Linked DNA regions of Homo sapiens: region 2 is linked to region 1. The links come from fine-mapping of genetic effects on gene expression. A gene starts in region 1. The other region holds a variant in brackets. All regions are shown on one strand. Distances are between the middles of the regions. Region 1 holds the start of RGS11 (regulator of G protein signaling 11). Region 2 overlaps LMF1 (lipase maturation factor 1).

Region 1 (8,853 bases):
GCTCAGCCCCGGCGCGACTGCGGTGAGCTCATCCCGGCCGGGAGCGCCCCCCGCGCCCAGCCGCGCCCGGCAGAGAGCCCCCAGCCGCTCCGGACCCCGCGCAGCCCCGCAGAGACGCGCGTGTCGCCCGCACGGGCCGGCACCCGGGTCGCCCCCGCCGGCGTGCCAGGACCCCGCACAGAAGCGCCCGGACGCGGACGCACGCAGCCGCGGTCACGATCCCCGCCGCCCGCCCGGCCCGTGCCCGGCTCTGGCCAGCAGGGCTGCCCCACCCCCACGGCGCGGCGGGAGCCCGAGGGGGTCTCCTGGGAAACCCTCTGCGGGGCGCCGTGGCGCAGGTGCGCCCCCATCCCCAGGGTCTCATTATCCGCGGCCACACCTGGGGCCGGACCGCGCGCCCCCTTCCCCTCCCCCGCTCCTGAGGGAGCTTCTGTCTGGGCCGAGGGGGACTCCGGGGGCCTGCCCAGCCTTGGGGTGAGGGGCTGGCCCAACACCCTACAGGTTCACGGTCATCAGTAGGGCGGGACCACAGTGGGCGCGGGTCGCACGCACACCCAGGAGGCAACAAGGGCCCCTCAAAGGCTTAGCGACCTGGCTGCGCTGTGTGAGTTCCCAAGAGGGGGTGTCCCTGCAGGGCTCTTGGAAACCCAGTTACCGAGCCCCCTGTCCTCAGGGAGAGGACACTGACAAGGGGGCGGAGTACAGAGACCGGAGCACAGAGGGGGCTTCTGATATTGACACCTAAACTGAGACCTGTGGGTGGGTGGGGGGGATGGGACCCGGCAGGGGACAGGGGTGAGCAGGCCCTGGCTGGGACAGCTGGACCAAAGGCCTGCGTCTGGATAAGGGAGAAGGGGTCCGAACACCAGCCTGAGTCCCTTTCTTAGACACCCCTGGCCGGTTCCAGGGACACCAGAAATTAGACCCGCCCTTGCCAAAGAGCTCCTCAATTGAGAGAAGACCACCTTGGGTGCTAGGGGGCATTGGGGTTTGGGTGGGGACTGTCTCCCTTGCCCCCCAACTGCCCACAACCTTTCCAGGGCAGGATCCTATGAACTTGTGCCCAGGCCCCCCTAGAGCGCCACCTCTGCTGACCCTTCGCTGCAGGGAGCGGGGGCTGTTAGGACACTTGTCCCCAGGCCCACAGCTCCAGCTCCTGCAGCTGTTACCAGATAGAAGGTCTTGGAGGTGAGTTGTCCAGGTTCTTGGTGGGTTGAACAAAGAATTGAACAAAACGCACAAAGTAACAAAAGAACAACGAAACACAAGGAAACAAAACTGAGTCAGAAGAACGGAGTAAGGAAAGCACAGATTTAACGGAAGGCAATTCACAGAGTGGGAGTGGGCTGGAGCAAGTAGCTCCAGAGCCTCTGTAATTAGGATTTTTATTAAGCAAAGAAACCTGACCACAGCCCTTGTGCCCTTTAGAGGCCTCCAATTGGCTACACCCTATGAAGGATTGGCCCGAGACCAATCAGAGGTGAAGTGGAAATTTCTGTCTTGTTATCACAGCAGCCAGGATGTGGCTTGTGAGCTGCCCAATCCTGCCTAGAACTGGCTGCACCTGCTGTTCCGTTTCTTATGCCCAACCCTTGGCTACCCTCATTCCCTATTCTGCCTCACAGCTACCATGGGTGCCCACCCCTGCAGACAGGGCAGCCAGACCTGGGCCACCTCACCCCACCTGGGTGTGGGGCATGGGAGGGCTCACTGGGATCCAAGCGAGATGGTACCCTGGAGTAAGAGACCCCACAAGCCCCCTGCCCCAGCTCATGCTGAACGTGGCCTCTCCGGCAATGGAAATGGACTCAGACCACTATGTTAGGGGCTCCCAGCCCAAGGCCAACCGCCCACCCTGCCCAGCCCCTAGCACCCTCTGAGTGGGTAAGGATGGGGAGAGGTACTCTGCCTCCAAGAAAGCAGAAATAGACCAGATGCGGTGGTACACATCTGTAGTCCCAGCTACTCAGGACGCTGGGGTGGGAGAATCACTTGAGCTCAGGAGTTTGAGGCTGCAATGAGTTTATGATTGCACCACTGCACTCCAGCCTGGGTGACAGAATGAGACTGCCATCTCTCAAAAAATAAATACATAGCCAGGTGCCATGGCTCATGCCTGTAATCCCAACATTTGGGAGGCTGAGGCAGGAGGATCACTTGAGGCCAGGAGTTCAAGATCAGCCAGCCTAGGCAACACAGCAAGAAACTGAGGCCCTTACAGACAGGGATAAGCGAGGGGCTACGTGTATATTTATCTACAAAAATAAAAATGAAATTAAAAAAAAAATTAGTGGCCAGGTGCGGTGGCTCATGCCTGTAATCCCAGCACTTTGGGAGGCCAAGGCAGGTGGATCACTTGAGGTCAGGAAGTTTGATACCAGCCTGGCCAACACGGTGAAACCCCATCTCTACTAAAAATGCAAAAAAAAAAACAAAAAAAAAAATTAGCCGGGCATGGTGGCGCATGCCTCTGATCCCACCTACTTGGGAGCTGAGGCAAGAGAATCGCTTGAACCCAGGAGGCGGAGGTTGCAGTGACCCGAGATTGCACCATTGCACTCCAGCCTAGGCAACAAGAGTGAAACTCCATCTCAAAATAAATAAATAAATAATTTAAAAAATAAAGAAAGCAAGCAGAAATAGATGCATTTGCACCTTTTAAAAATGGTGCTGAGGCTGGGCTCGGTGGCTCAGGCCTGTAATCCCAGCACTTCGGGAGGCCGAGGTGGGCAGATCGCCTAAGGTCAGGAGTTCAAGACCAGCCTGGCCAACAAGGTGAAATGCTGTCTCTACTAAAAATACAAAAATTAGCCAAGCGTGGTGGCGGGGGCCTGTAATCTCAGCTACTCAGGAGGCTGAGGCAGGAGAATTGCTTGAATCTGGGAGGAGGAGGTTGCAGTGAGACGAGATTGCGCCATTGCACTCCAGCCTGACAGAGCAAGACTCAGTCTCAAAAAAAAAAAAAAAAAAAAGATGCTGGCTGGGCATGCCTTTAATCCCAGCACGCTGGGAAGCTGAGGCAGGAGGATGGACTGAGCCCAGGAGTTTGTGACCACCTTGGGCAACATAGTGAGACCTCGACTTAGTTTTTAAAAAATGATCCGACCGGGTGTGGTGGCTCACACCTGTCATCCCAGAACTTTGGGAGGCCAAGGCAGGTGGATCACCTGAAGTCAGGAGTTTGAGACCAGCCTGGCCAACATGGTGAAACCCCATCTCTACTAAACATACCAAAATCGGCCAGGCACAGTGGCTCACACCTATAAGCCTAGCACTTTGGGAGGCCAAGGCAGGCACATCACCTGAGGTCAGGAGTTCGAAACCAGCCTGGCCAACGTGGTGAATCCCTATCTCTACTAAAAATACAAAAATTAGCTGGGTGTGGTGGCGCGTGCCTGTAATCCCAGCTACCTAGGAGGCTGAGACAGGAGAATCGCTGGAACCCAGGAGGCGGAGGCTGCAGTGAGCCAAGACCGCATCACTGCACTCCAGCTTGGGTGACACAGTGAGACTCCGTCTCAAAAACAAAAACAAAAATAAAAATTAGCCAGGCGTGGTGGTGGGAGCCTGTAATCCCAGCTACTCAGGAGGCTGAGGCATGAGAATTGCTTGAATTCAGGAGGCGGAGGTTGCAGTGAGCCGAGACTGCCCGGTGGGGCCTGAAGATCCTGGGCCTGGCTCGGGGTGCACCTGGGGGACAGGCATAGCCATTGGAGGAGGGAGAGAGCTGGGAGTGGAGTGGGGCCTGAAGCCTGGCGGCCGCCGGTGACACTAAGTGGGTGTGTGTTGAGGGCCTCCCTGCAGTAAAGCTCCTCTCCAACAGTGTCAGGGTGCCCTGGGCAGGGTTTCTGCTCATTCCCCAGCGGGCCACCCAGGCCTGCGTGGAGCTGAGGGAAGTGAGCCATGAGCCATCAGCCACTTTCCCGGAAGGACCCCGGATAAGGGACCCACAGCAGGAGATGGGGACAGCTGGGTCACACTCTGCAGCAGCCACGTGCTCCACTGACAGCCGGCATCCGGCCCATGTAGAAAGCTGACCCAATCTCTCATGCACCCTGCCCCTAACCAGCCACCGTCACAGCAATGTATGCAGTCTTGGCCACAAGCATCGCAGGACACAAGGCCTCGGGCAGTCATACCGCTGGCCCTGGCCCCGGCCCCACAGCCAGGCCTCTAGTCCCTGTATGTCCTCAGGGCCCCACACATAGGACCGGGGTTACAGTGGGCCCTAAACCACGTTTCCCACCCCAGTTCACTCTCCCTACGGGTCTCCTCTACTCACGGAACCCCTCTCCCTCTCTGAACCCCCATCCCCTCCGCTGCCCTCCCTGAGACCCTCCCCATAGTAACCCCCCCTCGCTGATGAGCCCCTCTGCCTCTCCCAGAGACCACCCCCTGCTCCAGCTGAGCTCCATCCCCTCACATCCCCCCTCGGCCCCCGGCCCACACCCTCCCCCGTCCCACTTCGCCTTCACCCACGAGGGCCTCAGCGTCCCGGGACCTGGGTCGGGGGGGTGACTCGGGTCGCTCGTGGGGGGCCGGCTCGTTTGCCTCTGGGCCGTGGCCGTGTCTCTTAAAACCCGAACCGGGGCCTGGGCGACTCTGGCCTCGCGGCCCGAGGGTTAACCCGGGCGCGGCGCGGCGCGGGGCGGGGCCGGGCGGGACGTCGGTCATCCCCGCCGGCCTCGCCCCGCAGCCATGGCCGCCGGCCCCGCGCCGCCCCCCGGCCGCCCCCGGGCGCAGATGCCGCATCTGAGGAAGGTGCGAGGCGGGTGGGTGTCCCGCCGTCCCCCGATTTCCCGGCGCCCGAGGCCGGGAGGGGCCGGAGAGCATGGGGACACGGGGGCGCGCGGGGCGGGGCGGGCCTGGGGCGGAGGTCTGCGAGGCCGGGAGGGGCGGCGAGGCCTGGGGCCCTTGGGGGTCTCCGGGGTCTCCCCGGCCCTCCCCGGCCCTCCCCGGCCCGCCCCGCGTCCCCGCCGCCAGCTGCGGCCTGGAATCCGCCGCCGCCGCGCGTTAATCTCCGCGCTCCCGGATCCGGGGCATCCCGGCCGGTGCCAGGGAATCAGGGTTGCGGGGCGGCCAGACACCCCCTGACGACTCCCTCCGCCCAGATGGAGCGGGTGGTCGTGAGCATGCAGGACCCCGACCAGGGCGTGAAGATGCGGAGCCAGCGCCTGCTGGTCACCGTCATTCCCCACGCGGTGACAGGTGAGGCGCGCCGGGGCGGGGGTGCGTGCGCGCCTCGGCCTCCCTCCACCTCTGTCTCTCCCGTGCAGGCAGCGACGTCGTGCAGTGGTTGGCCCAGAAGTTCTGCGTCTCGGAGGAGGGTGAGCGCCCTGCCTCCCACTGGGCCCTGGGGTCACTGGGCTGGTGGCCTAGGCCTGGGTTTTCCTGGAGTCTGGCAGTTCTCAGAGCCCTGCTGAGCGCGCTGTGCAAGGGTGGGGAGCACATAGGGGAGAGGAGGCCCGGCTCGTCCCGCCCTCGCCCGCTTCCGCGGCCCCGCGCTCACCGTCCCACCCCTCCCCAGAGGCCCTGCACCTGGGCGCCGTCCTGGTGCAGCATGGCTACATCTACCCGCTGCGCGACCCCCGTAGCCTCATGCTCCGGCCAGACGAGACGCCCTACAGGTTCCAGGTCAGGCTCGGGGGTGCAGGTGGGAGCCGGTGGGACCCCCACCCCCACCCACCCAGCTTACCAACTCGGGGAGACAGGAGGGGCGCCGAGCTTGCTGGGATTGGAGTGGGACTCCGCCATGTCGCCGTGGGCTGGTGGTCCATCGCCCCCTCCCCAAAAGTCCTGGACCGCAAGTACGGATGTGGTGAGAAGGACCCGGCTGAGGGATGGAGCCTCAGTTTTCCTGGGGACCACAGCAGGGCCCCACAAGGGGTCGTATGTGCAGAGGATTCTGCCATCTTCCTGGGGGTCCCTAGGCCCAGGTCCTGAGGGAGGGGCTGTGAAGGCCTGAGGACAGCATTCCTGCCCTCCCTAACCACATCAGGGTCCCGGGCCGACCTGCCGTCGGTTGTACCCCTCCCCAGGCACAGACTGTGACTACATCCAAGACTTGTGCAGGCCCCCAGCCCCACCCCGCCTTGAATGGGGGCTTAGGGTGACCAGTGAGGGAGGCAGTGTCTGAACAGGGCCCTAAGGAGCGAGTTGACCTCAGTTCTAGTTGGAGAGACTGGCCAGTGGTCAGTGGAGTCTCTCGGTGGTGGGCAGGCAGGGAGATCCTCAGACACCTCCTGCCCAGCCCAGGCTTCTTCCCAGGGAGGTCTGAGGGTGGGGTGACACTGGGGAGGCACAGACGCAGGCGTCCTGGACACCTTCTCCCTGCACCACGCCAGACCCCGTACTTCTGGACAAGTACCCTGAGGCCGGCTGCAGAGCTGGACTATGGTGAGCAAGGGGACGGCTGGCCCCAGACAAGTTCCCAGGACTGGGGGCCTCAGGGTGATGCCGTGAGGCAGGGCAGAGCTGGCCCCTCTGCAGGCTGTCCCTGTTCTTCCAGCCATCTACCTGGCCAAGAAGAACATCCGAAAACGGGGGACCCTGGTGGATTATGAGAAGGTGGGACCCCCCACCCTTCCCGCCCCGGCTGGGTACAGCTGGAGGAACCCAAGCCTCACTCACGGCCCCCCGGGGCTTCACGGTTTACCCCAGAACATACAGCCCAGGCCCCAAAACCCAAGACAGTCCCCAACCCCCCAACTGCCCACACAGTCTCACTGGGGGCAGGGGCCGGGGTGACCCACTGGAAACCTCGCTGCCCCCAGGACTGCTATGACCGGCTACACAAGAAGATCAACCACGCATGGGACCTGGTGCTGATGCAGGCGAGGGAGCAGCTGAGGTGAGGCCCCGCCCTGCCCCGCCCCGCCTGCAGGCGCCCAACCCAGGCTACCCGGGAAGCCCAGCCCAGGCCAGGCTCCGGTGGCCCTGGGACCGTGGAGGGCACCCCTGGGTGTGGCTGCCTGCCCAGGTCCAGGCCTGAGGGTGGGGGCGGAGGGGCTGCTGTGTGCAGGGCGTGCCCTCAACTCGGCCTCCTCCTCCCAGGGCAGCCAAGCAGCGCAGCAAGGGGGACAGGCTGGTCATTGCGTGCCAGGAGCAGACCTACTGGCTGGTGAACAGGCCCCCGGTGAGCCCACCTGCGGTGAGGGTGGGGGTCGCTGGCCAGCGCAGGGGTCAGCGTGCTTCCCTGACAGGCGCTCTCAGGACCACCATTTTGAGCCTGTGGAAGGACCTGCCTTGGAGCTCCTGGTGGGGGCAGGACGTTTTCACTTCGTGACTTAGTTGCGTTTCTGCCAATCAGAACCCAGGTCTCCATCCCTAGACCACAGGACAAGCCAGCTTCTCTCTGGGCCCAAGGGAGAGTCACAGGGATGCCAGATTGCGGGGACTGCAGACTCTGCCTCGGGAGCAGGCAGAGTGGGGGCGGCCTTGGCTGCAGTGGGGGGACCGAGTTCACAGGCCGGGAGCAGCTGGGGCTGTGGGGAGGCCCGGTGGACAGGCCATTTGGAGGTGGTGAGCAGAGAAGAGACAGCTGACGGCTAGGTCGGGACTCTTCCCGAGTTCCTTTGAGTGTCAGTTTCCACATGGGGGTCTGGGAGGGGGAACTTAGCCTTAAAGGGGGTCAGCCACCGGAACTGCATCCCCACCTCATCTCGTCTCCCCTCCGCAGCCCGGGGCCCCCGATGTGCTGGAGCAGGGTCCAGGGCGGGGATCCTGCGCTGCCAGCCGTGTGCTCATGGTGAGCCCCTGCGTGCGTGCTGGCCGCCCTCTCACCCTGCACACCGGCTGCACCCTGCTGGACGCACCATGGGACTGCCCATCTGTCCGTCATTTGGTCCACCCAGAGGGCACTTGGTGCAGCCTCCCCAAGCCCCTGCTCACTCCCGGTCACTCCCTGTTCCCCAGGCCCCTGCTAACTCTCGCTTTCTCTCCCCTCCCACCTGCTGCCCTGGGTGCAGGTAAGTGGAGTGGTGGGGACGAGGGGGCTGGCGGGGAGGAAGGGGGCTCTTCTCCAGAACAGTATCAGGGTTTGCTGGGAATTGGAGGGGTGACAAGCAGGGTTACGGCCTCTGACAGACCTCAGCAGATCCAGCAACCTCCCTCCAGGTGGAGGCCTCCAGAACCAGAGGGACCAGACCAGAGGGAGCATCTGAGCCCCGCAGCAGCAAAACCCTTTGTTCAAACCAGTCCCATCCAGACCCAACATCTGGAAAGATGCACCTAGAACCTCACTGATAAAACTTCTTAAGTTCACGACCCTAACATTTCCCCATACAAAGCTGGTCAGAGAGAGCGGGGACACAGGCCAGGACTCGCAGCGCGTCCGCCTCCTCCGCTCTGGCCCCAGCGAGGTGCCGACCAATGAAGGTCACACCTGGTTCCCCAGTGATCCCCATTAGTAGTATTTCTCAAGTATGTGTTGTTTAAAAACATAATTTAAGTACATTTGAAAATGTGACATATTAGGCCGGGCGCGGTGGCTCACGTCTCTAATCCCAGCACTTTGGGAGGCTGAGGCGGGCAGATCACCTGAGTTCAGGAGTTCGAGACCAGCTAGATCAACATGGAGAAACCCCGTCTCTATTAAAAATACAAAATTAGCTGGGCTTGGTGGCGCATGCCTGTAGTCCCAGCTACTGGAGAGGCTGAGGCAGGAGAATAGCTTGAATCCAGGAGGCGGAGGTTGCGGTGAGCCGAGATCGCACCACTGCACTCCAGCCTGGGAAACAAGAGTGAAACTGTCTCAAAAAAATAATAAAGAAAAAAAAATGACATATTACAGTTGCAACTTTGAGAACCTGAGGTTCCGTGGAATATTCCACAGATCGCCAGACCTTAGGCCCC
Region 2 (8,853 bases), 690 kb before region 1:
CTGGACTGAACTGACGTTGGTTTGCTATTGATGAGAGTCACATAGTATATGTACACAATGCATTTTAACTGCCTCAGAATTAAGGTGTTATCTGGAAACAGTGTAATTACAGTTGGTCAGAATTGGGTTGATAGCAGTTCACTGCAGAGAACTTTCTGGAAGCTGTGACAGGTGGAAGTAGTGGGGCTCAGGGTTGGTGGGCCACACCTTAGCTGTGTGGCCTTGGCCAAGTTGCTCATCAAGACCTTCCTGTCACTGATGAGGTGAGAGTGACCGCTGGGCCGTCCTGAGGCTGACATGGGATTCCTTGCCTGTGCACACTTCCCAGAAGGCGGACCAAGGACACACCCGCCTGGGAGACGGCTCGCAGGCAGCCACGGAGTATATATATCTGAACGTCGGAAAGGACCTTTCCTTTGAAGCTCAAACATTTATGAGATATTGTTACAATTCGGAAGGGATCTGTAGGTGAAATGTGACATGAAGACTGGGTAACGTTGGCATTTGCAGACTGACTTTATGTGTGGCACTTTTCGTGGGTGCCATGGCGTCGGCGCAGAGACACTCCTGAGGGATTTCGTCTGTCGGTCCATGTGTTTGTGGGGGCCGAGTCCTGGACAGGCCTAGGAGGGAACCGCCCCGGCCAGGGCCGGCTGCTCGGCGCCTGCACAGGGCATGAGTGCTGGGGGCTTTGGGACACACGCTCCCTGCTGCCTCTGGGGCAGATGTCCACCTGCACTGCTTGCAGTGAGAGGCTGGGGCCCCAGTGGACGAGCCGTGGTGCCTGAACTGCTCCCGCTGTGTCCCCGCCACGTGAGGCATCTCTTCCTGACCGTGGTCCTGAGACCACCTGGCCTCTGCCTTCCCAGGGTTAACTGTACTTGTTCTCTCCGTGGCTGCCGACACCCTTCTGGCCTTCAGACTTAGCCCTCATCACTCGTGGACTCCTGACCCCACCCAGGGCTGACCACCGGAGCCCTGCTCTCTGCTTCCTTTGCGGCTGATATTGTCCCCATTCCAGTGTTGTTCTTGTGCCTGTCTCCCCTCTAGCTCCTTGCAGTCAGGGAGAGGACTTTCTTTATACCTCTATCCCTTGTCTTCTAGGGGCATCTCCTGCTCAGTGAAATGTGCTGACCCGTAGCAGGTGGTCTCTACCAGGGCTTAGTGTCAGCATGGGACACTTTTCCAGCCATTACCCCTTCTTTCCCCTCTACCCACCTCCAGCCCCGAGGTGCGGCCCAGCAGGACAGATACTGCCACAGCCCTCCCTTGGTTGTGTTCATACTTCCTGGGCTGCTCATGCCTTCCTGTTTGCTGGTGGATTCTCTTTTTGCTGGAGTGTATCCCCAAGCAGCTTTTCCAGAAAGGACCAACTTGCCCGGATCTCTAATTCTCCATCAAAGCCACTTTCCCTCAGAGCTTTGCAGCATTGAGGAGGCATCTTCAAGCATCTGACTCTTCTTCTCCCTGGAAGCTTCTAAAGTCTCAGTGCCTTGCCCTCCTGCTCTCCACCTTTGCTCTCTGTTCTGGTTATTTATCGAGGAGTCTCTGAGGCTCTTTTTTTTGCTCTCTTGTAGTGGCCTTGGTGAGCTCTTCAGCCTCAAGGCTTGTCCTTGGCTCTGGATGAGGCTCTTCTGGCCTCTCCCCAATCTGCCCATGTGTTCCAAACACCGCATGCCCCAGCTGGGTTCCAAACAGGGCGGGTGGGGGCCACTCTCCTGTCTAGCTTCGTAGCGTGGGCTGAAACCTGGGAAAGTCTCTCCATGAAGCTGAATGGAGAAGAACATGGCTTCCGCGAGGCCCTAGGAGCCAAGCACCACACAGAACCCACCGCTTGGCTGTGATCCCGAGTGACGGGGACAGCCTGGACTGCAGAAGGAATGCCCAACGCTGGCGGGAACGGAGGGGCTTTTCTTGCTCGTCTTTCCAGTTCCACATTGTCACATTGGAGTCCTGGGCTCACTGAGATTATGTTGAAAATCCGACCTCTAGGGGATCTCCATGCTAGTTTTGTCCTTTAGGCGTGGAGGCATGCGTGCCGCACTGTGGCGTCTGTTCTGTGCGCCTGCTCACCGCCCTTCCTTCTTTTCCGCGTGGGGCAGTTTTATCGCGTCTCCCCGGCAGCTGCTTCGGCGAGGTGGGGCCGCGGTGCCATTGGTAGCGTGTCTCTGAGTCTCACCGCAGCCCTTGTAGCTTGGCATCCTCGTCAGATGACACCCGAGGCAGGGTTGACGTGGCAGGCAGAATCGTTTGCACCCGTATTTGCTAAACTCTCAGCTGTTCTTCAGAAAATTTGAGGAGAAAATGAAACCAAAAAGAATACTTGAAACCCTGCTCAGTTGGTTTTGTTCTGAGCTTTCAGTGGCTCTAAGAGCTCATGGGAAATGAGTTCTTTTTCTTTTCTCCGGGCCACTTGAGTTCTAATGAAATGCACCACTTGGTTTTACAAGTTCTTCTATAAAATACTTGCTTGTTTAAAAAGCAAACAGCACTGCCCTACTTCGGAGCTCTGCAGCACATCCCTTAAAGAAAAAATACTTGAGGTCACTGTGCTGAGGCCCAGAATTTAACCACGGCCAGTAAGAACCATCAACAGAGAACGGCATTTCTGGGATGACTGTTTTAATCTTACAACAATTTATCTGAAAGGAGAAAAGAGAAAGCTGATTTTTTTTTTCTGATTCTTTTTTTTTTTTTTTTTTTGAGACAGAGTTTCACTTTTTCGCCCAGGCTGCAGTGCAGTGGTGCAATCTCCTCTCACTACAACCTCCGCCTTCCGATTTCAAGAGATTCTCCTGCCTCAGCCTCCCGAGTAGCTGGGGCTACGGGCACAGGCTGCCACGCCCAGCTATTTCTTTCTGATTCTGAAACAAAGTATTTATCGGCCATGCCTGCTGTTGGCTGCTCGGGCGACACGGTATTTCCTCGGTATTTCCTCGTTGCAGCTCCCAGGTCAGGCTCTGGGTCCCTGTGAGAGGCGGGTGGCCGCCATGGCTCTGCTGCCTCCCGTGTGGGGTAGTGACGGGGCCTTCCGAAGCTTGACTGCTTGGTTAGTTTTGTTTTGAGAGCCTGTGATGTTTCAAGATTTTTACTGCATCTTTTTATGTAGCTATTTTTATAACATGAGTAGAGGTTGAAATAGTTTTTTTCTCTCTGAAATCTCAATTCAGTCTGTCTTCCTTTTTCCTGATAAGCAGGAAGCATCCTATGCTTCTTGCCTTAGAATTACTGATTTAGGCTATTGCTTTGGTGAGGCCACATCTTGTTTTCCTCTGTGGTCCTGGAGTTTGCGTTGTGGTGAGGGGTGGAGCACATCCACCCTTCAGCTAGCGCCAATTAGGTCCCTGTGGGAAAGGGGCCCCAGCCTAGCACCAATGAAGGCTGGGCCCTGGAGTGTGCAGTGGCTGAACAGTCACAACCTGTGTTTCTCCCACCTGCATACATGCCAGGACATACACACATGCATCCCTGCACACGCACACATACATGTGTACATGTGCACACGTGTACAGAGACATGCATACACCCGTGCACACATGGACACAGGGCATCCATGCACAGGTGCACATGTATACATGTGCACATGTGTACAGACACATACACACAGGGACACATGGGCATGTCATACCCATATGCACACACACTGGCCTGAGCTGTGGAAGCTGCTGGTGCGGTCCCTGCACGTGTGGCCGCCGGGGCTGAGGGCCTACCGCGAGGTGTCCTCTATGTTGCTAGGAGGTCAGCGCTCACAGCTCAGGTCCCTTCCACCCAGTGGTGGAGGCAGTAGGGGTGTGGGGAGCCTTCTGCTGCAGCCCTGTTTCCCGCCCTG[C/T]GACCCACCCCGAGTCCCCTCTGTGTCCCACCTCATGTCCACCCTGTGTCCAGCCTTGTGTCCAGTCTGTGTCCCGCCCTGTGTCTGCCCTTTGTTTACCCTGTGTCCATCCCGTGCCCGCCTGTGTCCACCCTCTTCCTCCTCACTTGGAGCTGCCCCCACCCACCTGCCGTCGCAGCCCCTTTAGAGGTCACCAGCCCTGACCCTTTCGTCGCCCAGGGCCCTGCGGTGCTCTGCCTGTGGCCCTGCTCCCACTGCCTTGGAGGGAGGCTGCTCACAGCGCTTCATGCCGGGCACTGAGTGGTGCAGAGTCTTCGAGAAACCTTTACTTTTTAAAATTTTTTTATTAAAAATAAAACTATTAACTGAAACTGCAGACTCTATGGCTTTTCCACCCGTGCCTGTTCCGTTCTGGGACCCGGTTTTGTCCTGGCGTCTCCTCCCTCCCTCCCTGGTCTGTGAGTCTCCCAGACTTTCCTGTGCAGGATTCCGACCTTGACAGTGTCAAGCAGGCCTGTCATGGCGTCTGTAGAGCGTCCCTCACGTTGGGTCCGTCTGGTGTTTCCTCGCAATTAGACTGGGTGATGGGTTTTGGGAAGACGCCCACAGAGGTGCGGGGCCCTTCCCGTCACACCGTATCAGGGTCCTGACGTCCGCACGGCTTTCTGATCACCCGGCCAAGGTCTGCCTGCCAGGTGTGCCCTCTGACAGGTCCCTGCTTTCCCGCCCGCTCTGTCCTCTGGAAGCCGCTCACTGGGTCCAGCCCCCGCCTCCTGAAGGGAGTGTCTGCGGACATTATGTGGAATTCCTCTGTGAGGAAGATCTTGTTACTTACTTGTTTGTGGTCACTGATTTTGTCACTATGGACCCACGCCCATTTATTTTCCCTCTGGGTCGTGATCCCGTGCTGTCACCGTGAGTCTGTGTCTGGGTCGTGATCCCATGCTGTCACCGTGAGTCTGTGTCTGGGTCGTGATCCCGTGCTGTCACCGTGAGTCTGTGTCTGGGTCGTGATCCCGTGCTGTCACCGTGAGTCTGTGTCTGGGTCGTGATCCCGTGCTGTCACCGTGAGTCTGTGTCTGGGTCGTGATCCCGTGCTGTCACCGTGAGTCTGTGTCTGGGTCGTGATCCCGTGCTGTCACCGTGAGTCTGTCTGGGTGGTGATCCCGTGCTGTCACCGTGAGTCTGTGTCTGGGTCGTGATCCCGTGCTGTCACCGTGAGTCTGTGTCTGGGTCGTGATCCCGTGCTGTCACCGTGAGTCTGTGTCTGGGTCGTGATCCCGTGCTGTCACCGTGAGTCTGTGTCTGGGTCGTGATCCCGTGCTGTCACCGTGAGTCTGTCTGGGTCGTGATCCCGTGCTGTCACCGTGAGTCTGTGTCTGGGTCGTGATCCCGTGCTGTCACCGTGAGTCTGTGTCTGGGTCGTGATCCCGTGCTGTCACCGTGAGTCTGTGTCTGGGTCGTGATCCCGTGCTGTCACCGTGAGTCTGTGTCTGGGTCGTGATCCCGTGCTGTCACCGTGAGTCTGTGTCTGGGTCGTGATCCCGTGCTGTCACCGTGAGTCTGTGTCTGGGTCGTGATCCCGTGCTGTCACCGTGAGTCTGTCTGGGTCGTGATCCCGTGCTGTCACCGTGAGTCTGTGTCTGGGTCGTGATCCCGTGCTGTCACCGTGAGTCTGTGTCTGGGTCGTGATCCCGTGCTGTCACCGTGAGTCTGTGTCTGGGTCGTGATCCCGTGCTGTCACCGTGAGTCTGTGTCTGGGTCGTGATCCCGTGCTGTCACCGTGAGTCTGTGTCTGGGTCGTGATCCCGTGCTGTCACCGTGAGTCTGTGTCTGGGTCGTGATCCCGTGCTGTCACCGTGAGTCTGTCTGGGTCGTGATCCCGTGCTGTCACCGTGAGTCTGTGTCTGGGTCGTGATCCCGTGCTGTCACCGTGAGTCTGTGTCTGGGTCGTGATCCCGTGCTGTCACCGTGAGTCTGTGTCTGGGTCGTGATCCCGTGCTGTCACCGTGAGTCTGTCTGGGTCGTGATCCCGTGCTGTCACCGTGAGTCTGTCTGGGTCGTGATCCCGTGCTGTCACCGTGAGTCTGTGTCTGGGTCGTGATCCCGTGCTGTCACCGTGAGTCTGTGTCTGGGTCGTGATCCCGTGCTGTCACCGTGAGTCTGTCTGGGTCGTGATCCCGTGCTGTCACCGTGAGTCTGTGTCTGGGTCGTGATCCCGTGCTGTCACCGTGAGTCTGTGTCTGGGTCGTGATCCCGTGCTGTCACCGTGAGTCTGTCTGGGTCGTGATCCCGTGTTGTCACCGTGAGTCTGTGTCTGGGTCGTGATCCCGTGCTGTCACCGTGAGTCTGTGTCTGGGTCGTGATCCCGTGCTGTCACCGTGAGTCTGTGTCTGGGTCGTGATCCCGTGCTGTCACCGTGAGTCTGTCTGGGTCGTGATCCCGTGCTGTCACCGTGAGTCTGTGTCTGGGTCGTGATCCCGTGCTGTCACCGTGAGTCTGTGTCTGGGTCGTGATCCCGTGCTGTCACCGTGAGTCTGTCTGGGTCGTGATCCCGTGTTGTCACCGTGAGTCTGTGTCTGGGTCGTGATCCCGTGCTGTCACCGTGAGTCTGTGTCTGGGTCGTGATCCCGTGTTGTCACCATGAGATGGTGTCTGGGTTGTGATCCAGTGTTGTCACCGTGAGTCTGTGTCTGGGTCGTGATCCCGTGCTGTCACCGTGAGTCTGTGTCTGGGTCGTGATCCCGTGCTGTCACCGTGAGTCTGTGTCTGGGTCGTGATCCCGTGCTGTCACCGTGAGTCTGTGTCTGGGTCGTGATCCCGTGCTGTCACCGTGAGTCTGTGTCTGGGTTGTGATCCAGTGTTGTCACTGTGAGTCTTTGTCTGGGTTATGATCCAGTGCTGTCACTGTGAGTTTGCTGCTCAGCTCCTCCAGCTTTGACCACTGGTGGGTTTCCCCTCCTTCCCCGCAGGGATGCTTCCGGCCCAGCTTCTGTTTCTCTGCCCCAGCCCTAGAATGAGTTGTTTCCAAGGAGCCCTGGTTCTTTTTAGGGGAGCATAGAAACTTCAGTCTGGGCACTGGGAGGGCCGTTGCTCCCGGGGTGTCACAGCTGCTGGCCCTCTTCCTGGGTAGAGCTAGGCTCTGTGTGTCACTATCTCATTTCACACATTTGATTGCTTCTCTGTCGTATCCACCTATCCATCTGTAAGTATACGAAGGTCAACCTGGTCCATGCCGATGACTCTGACTCTCACCTGGCACACGGTGTATTCCAGCCTTCCGTCCTGGAACATGGTGTATTCCATCCTCCCGTCCTGGCACACGGTGTATTCCAGTCTTCCCTGCTGGCCCATCTGAATCCTCCCTCTCTGCTAGTGGGAACCTGGCTCCCCTGACTCCTCTAGCATCTGCTCAGCCCTGGTGCACGTGCGAGAATTGTCCACCCAGGCCCGGGGGGGAAAGCCCTGGAGTGCAGCGTTTGTGTACAGCTCCTTCTGGCCTTGCGGTCTCCACTCAGAACATTTTCCGGAGTTGCTTAGGCGGCTCCTGCCCTCTGGCCAGTGTGTTTCTGTTTCACATCCGTGCGTGTGGAGCCTGTATTCTATCTGCATCCCCCAACCTCCTGGTCGGGTCTTCCCCCAATAGTTTGTGCACATTGAAGTTCATCTCGTGTAATGCTCAGTGCTGTGGGCTTTGCCTCCATCACCCCAGCTCCAGCCCCAAGTCCCCCGTGCATGGGAGTGACCACTTCCCCTGCACCAGCCCCTGGCACGCCCGGGTCTGTCTCCCGTCCCTCTGGTTTTGCCTTTTCCAGTGTGACATACGAATGAAATCACGCAGTATATAGCCTGTTGGGTCTAGATTCTTTTGCTTAGCAAAATGCACTTAAGATTCATCCATGTTATTGCCTGAACCAACAGCTGCATTCTTATCTCTGATTATTTTTCTGTTGCACAAATGCACCTCCGGTTATTTATCCACTTCCACCGTGAAGGATGTCTTCCTTGTTTCTAGTTTTTAGTGGCTATGAACAGAGCTGCTATGAGCATCTGCATGAGGCTTCTGTGCGAGCACACTTTCAGGTTGAAGGCCTGAGAGGTGCAGTAGCTGATTTGTAAGGTAACCCTTCATTATCTGGGTCAGATGCCACCGTCTGCCATCCACAGTGGTAGGCCACAGCATCCCCGGCACAGCGAGGGCACTCCTGCTGTCCCGAACCTTCTGCAGCATTGGGCACTGTCCATGTTCGTGTTTTTTTTGTTTTGTTTTTTTGGTTTTTTTTTTGAGACAGTCTTACTCTGTCGCCGAGGCTGGAGTGCAGTGGCGCTGTGTCGGCTCACTCCAACCTCCGCCTCCTGGGTTCAAGCAATTCTCCTGCCTCAGCCTTGCGAGTAGCTGGGATTCCAGGTGTGCACCACTATGCCCAGCTAATTTTTGTATTTTTAGTAGAGACGGGGTTTCACCACATTGGCCAGGCTGGTCTTGAACTCCTGACCTCAGGTGATCTGCCCACCTCGGCCTCCCAAAGCGCTGGGATTACAGGCATGAGCCACCGCGCCCGGCCTGGGCACTGTCCGTTTTCAAGCACTTCGGCCATGTGACGTGTGTGTGGTGACAGCACGCTGTGGTTTTCATGGGCATTTCCGCAGTGATGAAGGATGTTGAGCATCTTTTCACGTGTTATTTGCCATCCGTACACCTTCCTATGTCTGTTCAGACCTTGTGGCCTGGTTTTTTCTTCCCACCTTTAACATTGGGTTGTTTGTTTTCTAATTATTGAATTTTAAAAGTTCTTTAAATATTCTAGATACAAATCCTTTATCAGATGTGTGATTTGCCAGTATTTTCTTCCAATCTGCGGCTTGTGTTTTCATTCTGTTAAAAGTAGCTTTTGCAGATCAAAAGTTTTTCAGTTTGATAAAGTTCAATTTACAGTTTCTAATTTCATAGATTATGCTTTTGGTGTTGTATCTAAAAACTTGTTGCCAAACCCAAGTCACATAGATTTTCTTCTATATTTCCA

What was found. PIP is the estimated chance that this variant, and not a neighbour inherited with it, causes the effect.
Region 2: its variant is fine-mapped to the expression of RGS11 in adrenal gland (GTEx, PIP 0.97).

The regions. Positions count from the first base shown.
Region 1 is chr16:271,757-280,609 of GRCh38, reverse strand. It overlaps RGS11 (regulator of G protein signaling 11), which reads left to right and starts at 4,666. Exons shown (of 17, transcript NM_183337.3): 1 at 4,666-4,761; 2 at 5,112-5,208; 3 at 5,277-5,327; 4 at 5,528-5,634; 5 at 6,345-6,396; 6 at 6,509-6,567; 7 at 6,774-6,850; 8 at 7,054-7,135; 9 at 7,679-7,747. The coding sequence starts at 4,699. It overlaps ARHGDIG (Rho GDP dissociation inhibitor gamma), which reads right to left and starts at 19. Exons shown (of 6, transcript NM_001176.4): 1 at 1-19. RefSeq lists enhancers at 4,750-5,401, 6,589-7,125, 7,126-7,662.
Region 2 is chr16:958,146-966,998 of GRCh38, reverse strand. All of the region lies in intron 1 of LMF1 (lipase maturation factor 1), which reads left to right. Among named protein-coding and RNA genes, the nearest start is that of LMF1, 8.4 kb to the left of the region's middle. RefSeq lists an enhancer at 6,515-7,015. The variant C/T (reference allele first, on the strand shown) is at 3,830.